Regions from separate parts of the Homo sapiens genome. Here region 2 is linked to region 1. The links come from fine-mapping of genetic effects on gene expression. A gene starts in region 1. The other region holds a variant in brackets. All regions are shown on one strand. Distances are from middle to middle. Region 1 holds the start of IL17B (interleukin 17B). Region 2 holds the start of CARMN (cardiac mesoderm enhancer-associated non-coding RNA).

What was found. PIP is the estimated chance that this variant, and not a neighbour inherited with it, causes the effect.
Region 2: its variant is fine-mapped to the expression of IL17B in visceral fat (GTEx, PIP 0.92).

What each region holds. Positions count from the first base shown.
Region 1 is chr5:149,376,078-149,384,417 of GRCh38, reverse strand. It overlaps IL17B (interleukin 17B), which reads left to right and starts at 5,126. Exons shown (of 3, transcript NM_014443.3): 1 at 5,126-5,213; 2 at 7,393-7,682. The coding sequence starts at 5,193. It overlaps LOC101927046 (a long non-coding RNA gene), which reads right to left and starts at 2,182. Exons shown (of 2, transcript XR_245875.4): 1 at 2,066-2,182; 2 at 59-227. RefSeq lists enhancers at 1,141-1,852, 3,279-3,991, 4,344-4,878.
Region 2 is chr5:149,400,545-149,408,884 of GRCh38, reverse strand. It overlaps CARMN (cardiac mesoderm enhancer-associated non-coding RNA), which reads right to left and starts at 2,040. Exons shown (of 5, transcript NR_105060.1): 1 at 1,807-2,040. It also overlaps a transcript of IL17B not described here. RefSeq lists enhancers at 551-1,551, 3,402-3,992. The variant A/C (reference allele first, on the strand shown) is at 4,681.

The DNA.
Region 1 (8,340 bases):
AACCAAACCAAATTACAAAATATCAGCCCGAACTTGCCAAATATTAAGTACCATTATGTGCCAGGCAAACAATAATTTTAATGATTAATGCATTTTAACAACCCCGTGAGGAAACGGAGGCCCACTGAAGTGAGGGGGGTGGACATGACCATATAATAAGGGGCAGGGCAAATGTCCAACCACCATTGCCTGAAGTCTGCCGTGCTTTCCCCACAGGAGGAGGGCTTCTGCAAAATAAAAAAGAAAGCTTTTATAATTATAATTATTTTCAACAACCAGAGTTTTAAAAAATGGACTGTGCATCCTCAGAGAGAAATGATATTCCTAGAGAGATGATACCCAGCAAAGGCACTTAGAAAGCGTTCCCGCTTTGCTAAGGGCTGGATGAGGTATCCCCTACCTCTGATGGCCTGTGGGTGGTGAGTGCTAACAAGAGACTTGGTACAGTGTAGAGTCAATTTGCAACCCAGAAACACAAACTTGGTGTTTTCAAGTCTGGATGCTCTGCAGAAGAGAGGCCTAGGCGACCCAGTCTCCAGTGAACAAGACCACCTCTTGGAGTCCTACCCCAACTCACATTTCTTTGACTTCCCCCTGTGGGGAGGAGACGCTGGCACCTGGCCTGGGCAGAGGGTCATGTCGACGTGGCAGCCCCTCTGCACACCCCAGAGGCCGCCCATTCACCCAGGCCTTTCCCTTTTTTGAGAACTGGGAGCTTGCTGGCTGGGGCTGTTCCCACCAACAATGTTCCCGTCCAGGGATCTTAAAATAGCACCTCTTGGCTGGGGCTCTGGAGTGAGCAGCGAGGCAAGCATTTGTGCAAATATGGGCCTGGGAGAAGGACTCCTACCAGGGAGGGAGGGGAGGGCAGCATGGCAGGAGAGCCAGGACCTCCCTAGGGGGCTGCACCCTCCTGGTCGCAGCCAGCAAAGGCGCCGACTAGCCTCTTCCCGCCTTCCCTGACCTTACTGGGTCCACTTGGGCAAGTTCTTAGACCAAATCCTTCAGGTCCCCCTGGCCTTGCCAACGCTCTAGGGTGGGCCCGCTGGAAATAGGCACCTTTGCATTCTTCTGCTGGTTCTAGCCTTGTCCCCACTTCGTAATGCCCTTCCTACCCAGGAACGTACTAGAAGCATTCTTGAAGGCCCAACTCAAAACTCATTTTAACTGTAGGAATGACAGTTGCAGCTACCATTAATGGGGTACTTACTTTTGCCAGGGACTGTGCTAAGCGCTTTAACGTGCATTATCTCATTTGATCCTCACAACAATCCACTGAGAGCCAAGTTATTATTATCTTCACTTTGCAGAAGAAACTAAGGCTCAGAGAAGTCAATTAACATTCCCAAGATGACACAGCAGTGAAGGGGCAGGGGCAGGGCTGAAACTCAGGCCAGCCCATCTGTGGAGGCTGACCTCTGCCCTCCCGGCTGCACTTCCTTCTCCAGGTCCCTCTGCTCTGGCCTCCTCCTCTGTCCCAGCATGGCCTCCCTGTATTATAGTCAGTTTGATTCAATGTATCAATATTTTAGTTCACATACCAGGAATGCTGTTGGGTGCCCCACGAGCACCCTGGGAGCTCTCGGATCCCCTTGATGACTTGGGCTTGGGCGTGGGTTTAGTGAGCACCCGAACCTACCGGGTTCAGGTTGTTTGAGGCCATGGGTCAAGGCTGAGGCCATCACAGACCGTGCTCAATGACCAGCTGACCAACTGGACATTCCCCCTCCACCCCTGGCTGCCGCCCCTCTCCTTACTCCACCGCAGGGAGCAGTGTGTGCAGGAGTCAGACAAACTTGCTGTGAATCTTCTGTGACTTTGGGCAAGTGGTTAACCACGCTGAGCCTCAGTTTCCCCATCTGTAATTCAGAATAAAACTAGGACCTCACCCAGTGTTATTTGGAGGATTTCATGAAGCATTTAGCTTATGGCCTGGCAGTCAGTAAGTGGATATTAAGTAGCAGCTATTATTGTTACTGTTATTTTCTGTGAATTAAGGTGTCCAGGTGCCAAATGCCTGAGGCCTGGCACACAGCAGGTGCTCAAAGTAAAGGCAATCACTCACTCAGCAGACAGAAGCCCTCACCCGACCCCTGGAATCGGTGACCCCGACACCTGGAATCGGTGACCCCGACACCGCCTGTGTCATTCCTGGCCGGCTCTGATGTCTCCTAGGCTCTGGTCCTCATCAACAATAGGGTCACTCTGGAAGCCAGGCACAGGCGCAGGGCCCCACCCACTCGCCCCATCCCCTCATTCTCAGTCCCGGGCCGCTCTTGGAGAAAGAGGTGGCAGAGTGCAAGTTCCCTCAGGGTCAGTACATTTTTCAGGGTTGGCTGGCTTTCTAGTGGCGCCATCTGCTGGTGAGTGCAGCACTGCTCCTGGCGGGGCCTGCTGCAGAGGGCTCTGAGCGAGACCGCGGCCACCCACTGCCCCTTCCCCTGTAGCTCATCTGCCCAGTCCTTCATTCACGCATGCTGACCACCCTCTGCGTGTTAAGACCCAAGGACCCCAGCCTCACTCGTGGGGTGGGAGCCCTGGAAGCCCAGTTCCTGCACCTCCCTCTCAGGCCTGGCACTGAGTCCTGGGGCTGGGTCCCACAGGCCTGCCTGGGTTCACACTCAGGACATCAAAAAGGACAGATGACCCTCCAGGGGTTTCTAGAAACCAAGACTGGAAGAAGGGGTCTCCCTCCTGGTCTGAGATGGTCCAGGAATGGGAAACCCAATGACTGTTGCTGGGCCCATGCCTGACTCCTCACAGCACCTGCCAGGGGACCCCAAAGCTCCCCTCCCCACTGTGAAGGATCTGGGGCCCCCACAAGGACTGGCCTGCCTCTTTGGTCTCCACCAGACCAGCAAGGAGGCCCAGCCTGGCCCAGAGCTGTTTGTATAAAGTCTGAGGGAAGAACAATGAATGACTTAGGAGACGGAGTTCTGCTCCCAGCTCTGGCACAAACGCACTGTGTGAGCTGGGGTAGGACCCTCCCTTATCCAAGTCTCCTTGTAGTAAAATGGGTGGGAGGAGGGGGCCAGATGATGGGTGAGGACCCGTGTAGCTCCCAAACTGGCCTCGTGCTAAGATGCAGATTTTTGCGCTGCTACTTCAGCATCTCTGGGGCTGGGACCCTGAAATCTAAAGTAGCAAGCACTGCAGCTGGAGCAGGGGAAGCTGACAAGTCAGTCCTGGCTTGGGGAGGCAGAAGTGAGGGGTGCGTATTTCCAGCAGGTAAGGAGAATGTGTTGGTTTCAGGGGTCCCCCATACCCCAGCATCCATCTTTCAGTTTGCCACTGTTCTGTGGATATGGGAGGGTCACCCCAGTTGCATGTCTGTGGGACCCCACTGCTAGCAGCAGCAGAGTGTGTGCAGAGAGCCAGCACAGAACACAGCCAGGCCGCCCGGCCAGTGGGGCTGGGGCTGGGACAGCCTGCGGTGGGGGCGGGGCCCTTGTTGCCTGAGGAGGTATTTTCAGAGTACCCCTCCCTCTGGAGTTTCCAACGGTAGAATAGAGCCCTGTCTAGTATTTGACCAAATATGGTGGCATCTCTCATGCTCGAGCCCCAGCCAGCATCTCAGTTATGCTGTGGAAGCCTGCCCCGGACAGATTAATCTTGTGACATTCAGGAGCGCCTCTCACCCTGCCTTCTTCCCCTCGGACGATTCCTGTAAATGGCCAAGACCGGCCCTCAGCACGACAGGGCCGTCCTCAGTATCTGTTCACAATGCCCCTCCTCTGTCCTCCTCACATTCCCTCCCGCCATTCCTGCCTCCCTGGGTGGATGTGCCCGCTTACATTGGGCTGGGCTGTTCACCTGAGGTGAGAGACATTGGCCAGAGGAGGTGGTCAGTTGAGCATGTGATTCCAGGACCTTTGGACCCTGAGGTCATCCGACCTCACAAACTTGTGGCCTGAATCTTGGAGGCCTAGACCTCTCTCAGCAGCCAGGAGGGTGGGCCTGAGGGGGTTGAAGGGAGAGTCAGTAGAGAAATGAGAACCATGCTACCTCTAATGCTAATTAGAACAACTAATGTTTATAATAATTATACAATTATTTTATAATAATCTCTATAATAAATAGCTAAGTGTTTATTGAGCACTTACTATGTGCCAGGTACTGTTGCCAGCTATTTAACATAGGTGATTTCCTTTATTCCTTATAGCAGTTTTAAGAGGGTGCCATGATTCTTCCCATTCTAGAGATGTGGGAACTGAGGCTCAGAAAGATTTCAGGAGGGAATGGGCCAGGCCACCGTCTACTTCTGGATACACCCACCATTTTATGGAGGAGGGAACTGAGGCTGACAGTAAAGCTCACATGCAGCCACACAGTCTCTGAGAGCGGAGACCACCCCAGGAGGGAGAGTGCTGTGTCAGGAAGGCCAGGACAATCAGCCGTAAGTCCTCATGGATCTGAAACTTGGCCAGAGTGAGGGCGTACAGCTTCAGAAATATGTTCACAGCAGGCTGAAATTGTGCGGAAAGTCTCCCAAGAAAAACAACATGGGGTGGTGGATAGAGCCCTGGATGGGGACAGGGTGAGAATAGCAGCTCTGACACCTCTAACTCACTGTTAATAGTGACAAGTCCCTTTCTGGCTCCAGCCTCAGTTTCCTTGACTGTGATCTAGAGGGGTGGGGCTTTGGTCTCCTAGGGCTGCTGAACTCACCTGAGGCCGGCAGAGGCTGGAGTGCCTGAGGCTGTTTCCCTGGGAGATGGGGCCTGTGTCCCACTCCTGGCCAGCACAATTTGAGAACATTTGCTCTCCTGACCAACCAACGGCCCATCCCTCCTCCACCCTCAACCCCTTGCCATCCCCTAAGCAAACGAAGCTGATTGTCTTAGCTGGCCCTGTGGGTGCTGGCTGGGCGGCCGGCCGCAGGCCACAGGCGGAGGTGCCACCGGCCAGAGCCCCACCAGACACACAGGGCATTGTCCCTCGGTCAACAGCCCCTGGGCACCTCAGCTCGGCTCCTGGCCTGCCCCCACGCCCCTCACCGCCTGCCACTGCGCTAGGCTCAGCCAGCTGGGGGCCCAAGGCTCCCAGCTGATGACGAGCCCACCCACTCACTCCCCCAGCAGCCCCCAGTTGAGCTATAATTGCTTCGCTCCATCCTGTTGCTGCCATTCTCTCGGCGGCATCTGGGGTTCCAGGCGGGCAGCAGCTGCAGGCTGACCTTGCAGCTTGGCGGAATGGACTGGCCTCACAACCTGGTACGTGGCGCTTCCCTGCCGCACCCCCACCCCTTTTTAAGAGCCCAAATATGTCAGTTTTTCTTTCCTATTTATTAATGGCTGCCTCTGTTTGGTTTAGAATCTGCAGAGGCAACTTCTCTGTCTTCTCCCCCAGGACTAGAAAGAAACAGAGACTGGTCACTGTAGCCATGGCCAGCAGTGCAGGCTCCTGAACGGGGCTCAGCCGGGGCACACTGAAGCCTTTTCAGACCAGAGGCGTCTGGGGAGATCCCGGCAAACTCAGTTATCGGGGTTTTTCCAAAGAGACCCGGCTTCTGAGGTCCTGGCTGTGTGACCTTGGGCAAGTCCTTCTGTTTCTCAGTGTCCCATCTGGAGAGTGAGGGAGGGGGACTTTGATTCTATTCTACGTTTCTCCGAGTGGAGAGCCAGAGTTTAAGAATGCCCTGTGAGAAACTCTAAAGAGAGAGCCTATTGTTAGGGAGACATTTTTTCTGCACTAGAATCTAGGACCAAAAAGGAAGAATTTAGCACTTGAATCTCTGTTGCAGATTTTGTGCCAGCAAATACCTCTGCCAAGAGGGGCTCTGCTGAAACTTGTTTCCTAGGGTCAAGACTTGCTGGGTAGCCTGGATAAAGCAGGCATGGGCCATGGGGCTGTGGGGCTGTGAGGTGAGGCATACAGGGAACATATGGAGCCTATCTCAATTTAAGAGGAGTCAGAGGTGCCTCCATCCTGGGAGCTCTGCCTCACACGCAGGCACTGTCCCTTCTCTCTGGATTCCTGGGGAGTCTGGCTTCTGCCGGGCCTGAGTCCTCTTCCTTGTGAGCCAAAGGCTTTCCTGATACTCTGGTGCTGGGAGGGAGAAGTGGATGGCAATGGGTGAGGGTGTGTGTGTGTGAGGAGGGCTTGGGGGATGGCTGGAAGAGGGAAGGCTCAGGGGAGAAGGGCAGTGCAGGCGGACAGGACATCCTTAGCCCATAACTTGCCCATCTCCCCAGCTTCATCTCATCCCCTCTTCCTCCCACCCACTCTTAATCAACATTCCATTCGATTCAGCAAAGTTCTTTTTTCTTTTTTTTGAGAGGAGTCTCGCTCTGTCGCCCAGGCTGGAGTGCAGTGGTGTGATCTCGGCTCACTGCAAGCTCCGCCTCCCGGGTTCAGGCCATTCTCCTGCCTCAGCCTCCCAAGTAGCTGGGACTACAGGCACCCGCCACCACACCCGGCTAATTTTTTTGTATTTTTAGTAGAGACGGGGTTTCACAGTGTTAGCCAGGATGGTCTCGATCTCCTGACTTTGTGATCTGCCCGCCTCGGCCTCCCAAAGTGCTGGCATTACAGGTGTGAGCCACCACGCCCGGCCACAGCAAAGTTCTTAACCAGTTCAAACCTCCTCTCTCATCTTCCCCCAACCCACCCCTCCCACACCTGCAAGACTTCAACTCCCTCAGCCCATGCCTGCCATGCCTCACCTGACATGTCCCTTCCCCAGAAAAGTTTCCCAGGCCATTGTCCCAGCACAGCTAAGCAGGAGGCCCCACTCTTCTCCAGCCACACCCTGAATGGGCCCATCCTGGACTTGTCGCTAGGGAGACTTGGGTGTTTGTCTTCTTGTTCACTGTCTTCCTTCTTAGACATAAATGACAGAAGGGCAGCGATGGGGACAGCCATTCATTTACTCAGTGAGTGTTCACTGAATGCATCACGCAGACACGGGAGATATGACAGTGTGTGGAAACTGACACGTGCCCCCACGGAGTCCATGCTGAGTTGGGGGCAGACACATAAAAGAATTGTATACACAAACTTTAAGATTGAAGTCATGCAAGAGGTGTGTGGGTTATGAGAGCCCAAGAAAGTCCAGAGGCATCCCTAAGAAAGCGATGCTAAAGCTGACACGAGGGGTGGGAAGGTGTCCAGGAGGTGAAGAGGCAGAATGCTGCAGGCAGAGGCTGTGCAAAGTCCCTGTGGCAGGAAGGAGCATGCTGAGTGTAAGACTGAGAGAAGACCAGAGGCTGGAACACACAAGAGAGAGGAAACAGGGGGTAATCTGAGGAGGGAGAGCTGGGGGATGGTAGGCAGAGTCAGACCTGAGCCTGGGAGACCCCTAAGAGCAATGGGAAAGGACCATGGACCCCAAGTCTTGGCCCAGATAGAGACTTGGCTCTCCCACCTTTGACCTGTGGCTTTCCTCCCCAGCTGTTTCTTCTTACCATTTCCATCTTCCTGGGGCTGGGCCAGCCCAGGAGCCCCAAAAGCAAGAGGAAGGGGCAAGGGCGGCCTGGGCCCCTGGCCCCTGGCCCTCACCAGGTGCCACTGGACCTGGTGTCACGGATGAAACCGTATGCCCGCATGGAGGAGTATGAGAGGAACATCGAGGAGATGGTGGCCCAGCTGAGGAACAGCTCAGAGCTGGCCCAGAGAAAGTGTGAGGTCAACTTGCAGCTGTGGATGTCCAACAAGAGGAGCCTGTCTCCCTGGGGCTACAGGTAGGCTGGGCAGTGGTGGCAAGCTGTCTTTGGGGGGTGGGGACCTTTCCTGTGCCCCAGTCATTGTAATGGTTAAGATCTCAGATTCAGAGGTCTGGGTGCTTGGGTTCGAACCCTAGCTCTGCCTCTTACTTGCCTGTGAGGCTTTGGGCAAATGGATTAGCCTTTCTGGGCCTCAGTTTCCTCAATGTAAATGGAGGCAACAGTAGTACCTCAGAGTCTTGTTAAGTGAGATATCCATGCAGAGCACTGCCCTCATTGTTCTTCAAGTCTCCATGGAAGTGCCTGCAAGGCTTTCCCCAGATGTCACTTCCTCTGCTCTGTGGGCCTCGGACGCCCTTCTCAGGTGTGGCGCTTCCATGCGGTGTTCCAGTCTGTCTCTTATGCTGGACCTGGGCCTTCCCAGTGCCGGCATCAGAATCACCTAGGGATTCCCATGCCCAATCCAAACCTCCAGCGGTGAGGCCCAGGAAGTGCTATTTCTTATAGCTCCACGTGATCAGGGCGCACAGCAGGCTGCGATTTGGGAATCAAGACCCATTGCCCTGGATAACGATGGCAGCAGCGTCCTCTCTTGGTTGTAGCTCCGCTTCCTTGCTCAGTGCCTGACCCATAGTAAGGACCAAAGATGAAGGAAAGGGCTGACCCTGAGGTCCTC
Region 2 (8,340 bases), 24 kb before region 1:
TGGGGTGCTTGTAATGCAGATTCCTAGGCCTCACTTGGGGTCCCCCGTCAGTGGGTGAGTGCACAGTGGTTCAGATACATTGCCCACACAATGCCCTAGAAAGGCAGGAAAGGAGATCCCCCCCAGTCCTTCAGGCATCTCAAGCTGATCACTTTCCTGTGTCCCACAGCCTCTGACTTTTGATTCCTCCTGCCTCTTTCCAGAGCCTGTTCCAGAGCTCTTCAGCAACTCTGGGCATTCCCTGGCCGGGTTTCATTCCCACTTCTCCCTCAACATAGCTCAGGGTATCTTGCCCGCAGGAGGTGTGGGCTCTGACTGCGATGTAACATCAGCCCCATTCATCCTGCTCTATGTGCCTACATCCCTCACTCCTCATGACAACCATGCAAGCTCAGAATTGTACCCATTTTACAGAGGAGGAAGCTGAGGCTCAAACAGCAAGCAACTTGCCCAGGGTCACTTGTCCAGTAAGTAAACAAGCCAGAATTGGACCCAGGCAGTTGAATTCAGAGCCTCCTTCTGAACCATGATGGCCTTGGGTCTTGTGTGACAAGAAGCGGGAAGGTGGAGGGTACAAGACAGAGGCCGGTGCTAGAGGACTGTTCTGTTCTGGGCTCCGGATGTGGCCAGAGTGTTTTCAGAGGAGCCCGACTCCATGCTGTCTGTACATCTTCAAGTTCCAATCCTAAGCCCCTGCCTCTACCCAGCCCTGCCTCCCATCACAAGCCTCCTGCATTCCTCTAAGTCCCCTGGCCCCACTGCTTCATCCCGCGAAGCCCTCTGCCATCTTTTCCATCCCTTACCTACTTCCATGTCCCACATTCCTGTGTGGTTGAATCCAGAGATCAGTCCTTTCCCCACCAGAGGCTGGTTGCAGCCAAGTTCATCTGGAGGGCTCGGGGCACCCCTCTGGCCAAGCCTTCAGTCACAGAACCTTCAGCTACTCTCCCTCACTCAGGCTCAACCTCCAAAAGCTCCCACAGGACTTCATCTGCTTGGACTCCAAGCTTGTGGTCAAAGTTCAGACTCGGCTCAGGGACCTCCTGGGGGAACTTCCCAACACTGGCTGTCCCTCAGGCACAAACAACTCAGAAGCCACATCTGCAGAGGGACCATTTTGTCCAATGGCCTTGCTATACAGATGGGAAAACTATGGCCCAGAGAAGGGAGGGGGCCAGCCCAAGACCACAGAGCCGGGCACTGAGAGCAGAGCTGGGGCCGGAGCTTAAGTGCCCCCGTCTCCTCTCACCAGCATCCCTTCCCATTGCTCCATGTGCAGTCAGCACCCAGCCTTCCCAGGATCTCTGCCTGCCTGCCAGAGCCTGAGCTTACATTGCCTCTTCCCCAGCTTTGTTTCTCGAAACCATTATTTGAAAACCATTTTCCTTGCCAGGAGCCCCAGGCTCTTGGAATTACAAAATCAAAGCCCCACACAATGAGGAAGAAGCACTGCCTATGTAGAAGCCAGGGAGACTGCCTGAGACTCGGGTGCCGAGGTGAAGCTTGGGCTGATAGGATGTTAACTCTGTGCACTCCCTCTGCACCTTCTTCCCCCAATTGACTACAACAACAAGGAATCCTAGAAGCCAACAGGACCATAGAACTAGAGCCGATCAGCTGGATGGATGCTTAGAGATCATTGACTCCAGCCCCTGTACAGATGGGGAAACTGAGACCCAGAGAATCTGTGTCCAGAAAGGGACAGAGCCAGTTAGCAAGACAGCAAGACCCCCAGATGCAGCATCCCCCTAGGGAAATTCCCAGAGGCCCCCACCCACGGATCCCAGGTCTGCCGTTGGTGCTTACCTTTCCTGGGGTCTGGTCCAGGTGTGGCTCCTTGGGGCCTGGAGACGGGAGCCAGCCTGTTTGGGGAGTGGTTGGGGGTGTCACTGCTTCTCAACTAATTAGACCCAGCCTCTGGTGCCCCTCGCTGCCACAGGGGCATTTTTAAGCAGCTGGCACTGAGCCCCCCTCCCCTTAGTCCCTTGCCTGCGGCTCCCTGGCCACAGAGGCCACTCTGCCTTTTACCTTATATGAGCTGAAGAGGCAAGCCCCGTATTGGGGCGAGGCGGGTGCTGAGCCCTCCCAGGGCCCCCCATTGGCCCAGGCACCCCCCACGTGACTACCTTGCCTTGACCTGCCCCCGGTGCTGAATGTTGCTTTTACCCCCTAAGGAAGGAGTGGTTGACAATTTTCATATTTCTTCTAAATTTGGAGATTTCAGACAATGCTGGGAGCCTTGGCTCCAGCCACCAGAGGCCCATGTGGAAGTCATTAAGCCTGAGAAGGGGGGCAGGGGAGAGAGGGAGGCAGGGAGAGGAGGAGGAGGAGGAGGAGGAGGAGGAGGAGGAGGAGGAGGAAGGGGGTGGGGAACAGAGTTCTGAGGGTTGCCAGTTGTCAGCCTGGGAACAAGAGCAAACTCCCTGGGAGAAAGCTGTGTGAGAATTTCCTTCCTCCCCCAGCCCCTGTGTCCCAGGACTGCAGTGGGAGTTCTGAGACTTTCTGGGAACCTCCAGTAGGGGAGACACCAGTCCTGGCTCCTGGAATCTGGGTGATGGGAATTGGGGGAACAGGAGAACATGGGGAAGGAGAGCCCAGACCGTGGGAAGCTACTCCCATCATCATGCAAACGAGGCCTGGGCCTGACAGGGAAGATCCTGACCCAGCCACCTGGCAGGGTCACCACAGGGCAGGGGTTTGAATGTGGAATGTCCTTCAGGGGGCTCTCTTTTCCCTGCCACCGCAGTCCTGAGAAATGCCCATCTCTTGCCGGAGTCCCTCTTTCTCCTTTTGCTTGGCCACCTTGGCCTCCTACAGATTCTTTAGTGTTTTTCATGCCTCAGGGCTTTTGCACTTGCATTGCTCGCTGCCAAAAATGCCTTCTTCCCAGAGCTCATGCTGCTCCTTCCCCTGCTCCTGTCTCCCACTCAGAAGTCTCCTCTGGAAGAGCCATTCCCTGGCCCCCTCAGTATTCTGTCACACCCTCTGCTTGCTTCCCGCTTCGGACTCGCCACGCATGTGCCTATCTTACATGTCCACGGTTCTAGTTTCTTGCTGGCTAGCTCTTTCATGAGAGTGTGACTTCCCCTGGCAGGCTCTGTGTCCCCAGGCTTCCTAGAGTGTCTGTGAAGAAAGGTCAGAAAACACAAATCAAGGGATCACGTGAACCAGGCCTCGGCTGCCAGCCTAGGAGTGTCGTGCTGAGGCCCATGGAGGTCTTCTCCCAGGGGCCAGCGGGGCCTGCTCCCAGGGCTGCCACCGGGTCCTGCCTTCCACTGCGCAGAGCTTCCCTTCTGCAGCCAGGCCTGCTGGACCCCAGCGGTCTCTGTTCACGGCCTCATTCACAGTTCCTCAGACCCCCAGCCTGGATGGGCCTGCCAATCCCTCTCTCCTCCTTCCAGGCCAGAGGCTGTGGTCTGCCTGTCACCGACCCTGGGACCCCCTCCAGCAGCACACGGGGCCTTGTGACATCCTGAGTGGGGCCAGTTGAGGGCCCGAGGGGGTGGGGTGCTGAATCAGACACTGTCCCTGACCTTGAGAGCCTCCCAGTCCAACAGGAGGATTAAAAATGCCATGTCCTTACCCCTCCACCCTCCCTCATTCCTTCTGAGGAAAGAATTCTGTTGGTGTTGAAAGGCCGGTGGGCTTCTTCCTGCCTTGGCCACTTCCTAGCTGTGAGGTCTGCCGCTCCCAGCCTCCCTTTCCCCCGGTGCCTCCCTTTCCCCTTGGGTAAAATGGCGAGAATCACACCTGCCTTCAGCATTGCCATGAGGGCTGGGCGAGGTGGCCCGTGCAGTCCTGGAGGAAGGTGTGAGCAGGACTCGAGTGAGACTGGGCTCAGCCCTGCCCCTCTGCTCCCAATGGTGGGGCTGGGGAAAGCCCTCTGGGAACTAACTTCTGTGAAGATCACTGTCTCCTCTGTAGCACAGAGTCAATGGTTGTGAAGGTTTAGCCCCGAGCCTGCTTCAGAGTGAGTGCTTGATCGATGTAAGCTATGACTCAGAGTTGCGGTGCGAGAGCTCTACACGGAGGTTTCGCCACTAATGTCACCCCCTTCTTTTCCAAACCAAGAAGATGAATTCCGTTCATGTGCATGCCCTGGGGTGCAGGTCAGAGATGGTGGGTTAGGGAAGGCTTGTGACACCACTCCCCAACCCTGCACAGTGGCCCAGTCGAATACTCCAAAGCACCACTGACAGACTCTAGAGGGAAGATAAAGCCGGCCTAACAGAAACATCGTGTTTATGTAAAGTCCACTCTGGAGGCTGTGAAACGTAAGTTATGCTTCTGTGAGTTCTGCTACTGTATAAACAGTAGAGAGTTCGTCATCAAGAACAAACAGAAAAACTAGCAGTGCAAGCTGTGGGGAGACCCCCACCATTGAAATGCCCAAAAACTCTGCACCTGGCCGAGTGCTTTAGTCGGCTACGCCCATGAGTCAATGGGCTTGGTCAGCAGAAAGCCCATTGCGAGAGGCAAGACAAGGAACTGAAGCGACCTGGAGACAGGTCCTTGAATATCAGGAGAGAGGTGTTCTGCCACCAGACTAGCTCAAAAGGCGAAGTATATGGCAGCCATTTGTGACTCAGTGTCCATAAATCTGTCTCAAATATTTGGAAGCTGTTTCTATTTCCTGCCCATACTGTCTCTTGGGAGTTATGAACACTTTACATTATGAAC[A/C]ACTCATTCTGTGAAGTGGCTTTTCTTTCCAGACTGGGAGAGGCAGCCTTGAAATCCCTCCATTCCTAGAGAAAACAGGTCGACAGACTGCGGCTTGGTATGTGTGAGTAAGGCTTCTTGGGAGGTGAAGGGAGGTTCCTGTTAGGAGCTGAGTATGAGAGTGAGTTTGCATCGTTGAGTCCTGTGTTTTCAGATGGTGTATTTAGTCAGGGGGAGGGGGACCCTGTCCAGGAGAATAGAGGACTCATGGGCCCTGGGAGAGCCGGCTCTACTTCTCTACAGAGTGACCAAGGAAGACCTTGAATTGGTACAGTTGGAACCTTTAGGAAGATGGAATCTAGATCCACATGGGAAATACTTTTTAAGCCAGTGGAACTAACCAAGGATGAAGTGGGCTAACAAGCTGTCTTGGTAAAGTGGTGAGTTCCCTGTTATTAAGGGAATGCAAGCAGAGGCTGGACAACTTGGCAAGTCCCTTCCCAGCCCTGAGATCGTATGGGCTTCACTTCACCCTTTCTGTTCTCACCTCCCAACCTGTCCCTAATCTCCAACCCTGAATTCACACTAATTCTACCCAGGAGGCTCAGCTCAGAGGTGGCCAGTTGGGAAACAATTTTATATTGAAAAGGCCCATAACCCCTGAGTTAAAAATCAAGCCCCATATGTTCTCTTCAATGAACATAAAACTTTTTTTTTGTTGGTAGAGTTGGTATGTGGGAGGTGGGAATATGGACAATTAGTGATGAAATGCCTATAATTATTTGCCTTGCAATCCAACCATTTTCTCAAAAGCATCATACCATGGAAAGCTGCCCACATGGCTAGGCGTGGTGGCTCACACCTGTAATCCCAGCACTTTGGGAGGCTGAGGCAGGAGGATCTCTTGAGCCCAGGAGTTTGAGACCATCCTGGGCAACACGGTGAAACCCCGTCTCTATAAAAAATACAAAAAATTAGCTGGGCATGGTGGACTGTGCCTGTAATCCCAGCTCCTTGGGAGGCTGAAGTGGGAGGATCACTTGAGCCTGGGAGGCAGAGGCTACAGTAAGCCGAGATTGCATCACTGCATTCCAGTCTGGGCTATAGAATGAGACCTTGTCTCAAAACAAAACAAAACAAAACAAAACAAAACAAAACAGAACAAAACAAACAAAAAACTGTCTACAACTTGCTATTGAGTTTTTTTTTTTTTTTTTTTTTTTGAGATGGAGTCTCACTGTGTAACCCAGGCTGGAGTGCAATGGTGCGATCCCGGCTCACTGCAACCTCTGCCTCCCGGGTTCAAGCGATTCTCCCACCTCAGCCTCCCAAGTAGCTGGGACTACAGGTATGTGCCACCACGCCTGGCTAATTTTTTGTATTTTTAATAGAGATGGGGTTTCACCGTGTTAGCCAGGATGGTCTTGATCTCCTGACCTTGTGATCCGCCCGCCTCGGCCTCTCAAAGTGCTGAGATTACAGGCATGAGCCACCGTGCCCGGCACGAGTTTTTGTTCTTTTTTTTTTTTTTTTTTTAAAAGCATGGTATTAAAGAAGATAAATTGTATAATCCCTTTTAAGTCAAATGATGTGTACGTATGTGTGTGTCAGGAGAGGGTAAGTGTGAGAGTAGCAAGGCGCCCTGCTGGAGGTTGAATTTGTGTGTTGTCTCTTCCCTAATCTACTTCACAGATAGGCCAGGACAGGAAGTCACTGTGGAGTGCCCAAAGGTAGTATCTTTGGGAATGGCAGGGGAGGGTGAATTAACTCATTGTCCTGAGAGAAGGATGTAACACACCTTTTATGTTGATCGCCAGGGAAGAATGGTTATGGGAAGGGGAACAATGGTGTAGCCCAGTCCTCCCAAATCTTTGTGGGAAAGGCTTGCATTGAAGGGCCCTGGGTGGTTGGCTTGGAGCCCTTCTCTGGTCTAGGGGGAGCACCGTCTTCCACTACCGTGGCTGCTTTGGGAGTAGTGAACCTGACTGACAACTCGAATATTACTCACCAAGATTAGCTCCTGCTCGGTTATTCATGTCCTTCCACCATGGTCAGTGCACTGATACAAGACCACATGGGTCTGGACACCTCCTTCCAAGACGCCTGTACGGGAACCCTCTGTGTGTAAGAGGGAGGCAGTGAAAACCCTGTAGAGAGCAGCTGGGCTGCATGCTGGACTTCCTGCTATCACCAGCACATGGGGCTTGAACACTTGAAGTTTCAAGGAAAACCGGGCCACACTAATTGCACCCTGAACAGTGCAGGGTAACACATGTGACCGTGCATGTAAAATGCACCGTTCGATGTGTGAAAGAACGTTCAACAAAATAAGAAGAGAAGTTATCTCTGGGTGGAGGGAATTTGGGGTGATTTGGGCTTACTTCACTATAGTTTTCTGTATTTGATTTTTGTCTTGATTTTCATTGAGCATTTCTTGTTTTTAGGCAATTATCACATTTATTTATTTATTTGAGAGGGTTTCTTCCTCTGTCACCCAGGCTGGAGTGCAGTGGTGCAATCTTGGCTCACTGTAACTTCCGCCTCCTGGGTTCAAGTGATTCTCCTCCCTCAGCCTCCCTCAGCCCCCTAAGTAGCTGGAATTACAGGCATATGCTACCACACCTGGCTAATTTTGTACTGTTAGTAGAGATGTGCTGCCACACCCGGCTAGTTTTGTACTGTTAGTAGAGATGGGGTTTCACCATGTTGGCCAGGCTGGTCTTGAACTCCTGACCTCAGGTGATCCACCCGCCTCAGCCTCCCAAAGTGCTGGGATTACAGGCATAAGCCACCATGCCCAGTCCAATTATCACTTTTAAAAAGGCATACCACGAGACCTTGACAGCTTACTTTGTTTTAGAATTTATGTATGGCAACTGTGAAAAATTGAAAATTTAATTCAGTGTCCATTGTCTAATCAAGTCTTACCAGTCAGGGTCCATGTGCAGGAAAGCAATTATTCCTGCTCATTTGAGCAGAAAGGGATTTACTACAGGGAATCGGAAGCTTATGCAATTAGGAAAATTAGAGAAGTGGGCCCTAGAAAGGACCCTTGGGAATGACTTTGAAAACCACAAAATTGTCCTGTCAAGGCAGATGCTACCTCTACTGCCATCAGAAGTGATGTGATGGTTAATTTTATGTATCAATTTGATTGGGCTATGGGATGCCCAGATAGCTGGTAAAGCATTGCTCCTGGATGTGTCTGTTGGTGTGTTTCTGGAAGAGATTGGCTTTTCAATGCAGATCGCTTTTTGCCAATGCAGAGGGGCAGCATCTAGTCCATCGAGAGCCTGACTAGAACAAAAGGGTGGAGGAGGGGTGAATTCTCTCTTCTTGAGCTGGAACATGTGTCTTCTTCTGGCTTCAGACATCAGAGCTCCTGGTTCTTGCTCCTTGGGACTCTGGGACTTACACCAGTGGCACCCCTGGCTCCAGCCCTTTGAACCTGGACTAAGTCATACCAGCAGCTTTCCTGGTCCTCCAGCTTGCAGGTGGCAAAACGTGGGACTTGCTGGCCTTTATAATCATGTAAGCCAATTTCCGAGATAACTCTCCTCTTCTGTGTCTCTATATATCCCGTTGGCTCTGTTTAGCTGGATAACTCTGACTACAGTGGACTCTGGAGGGGGAGCTCCACTGTCATGTGAAGAATACACTGCTGCAGCTGTGTCCAGGGTT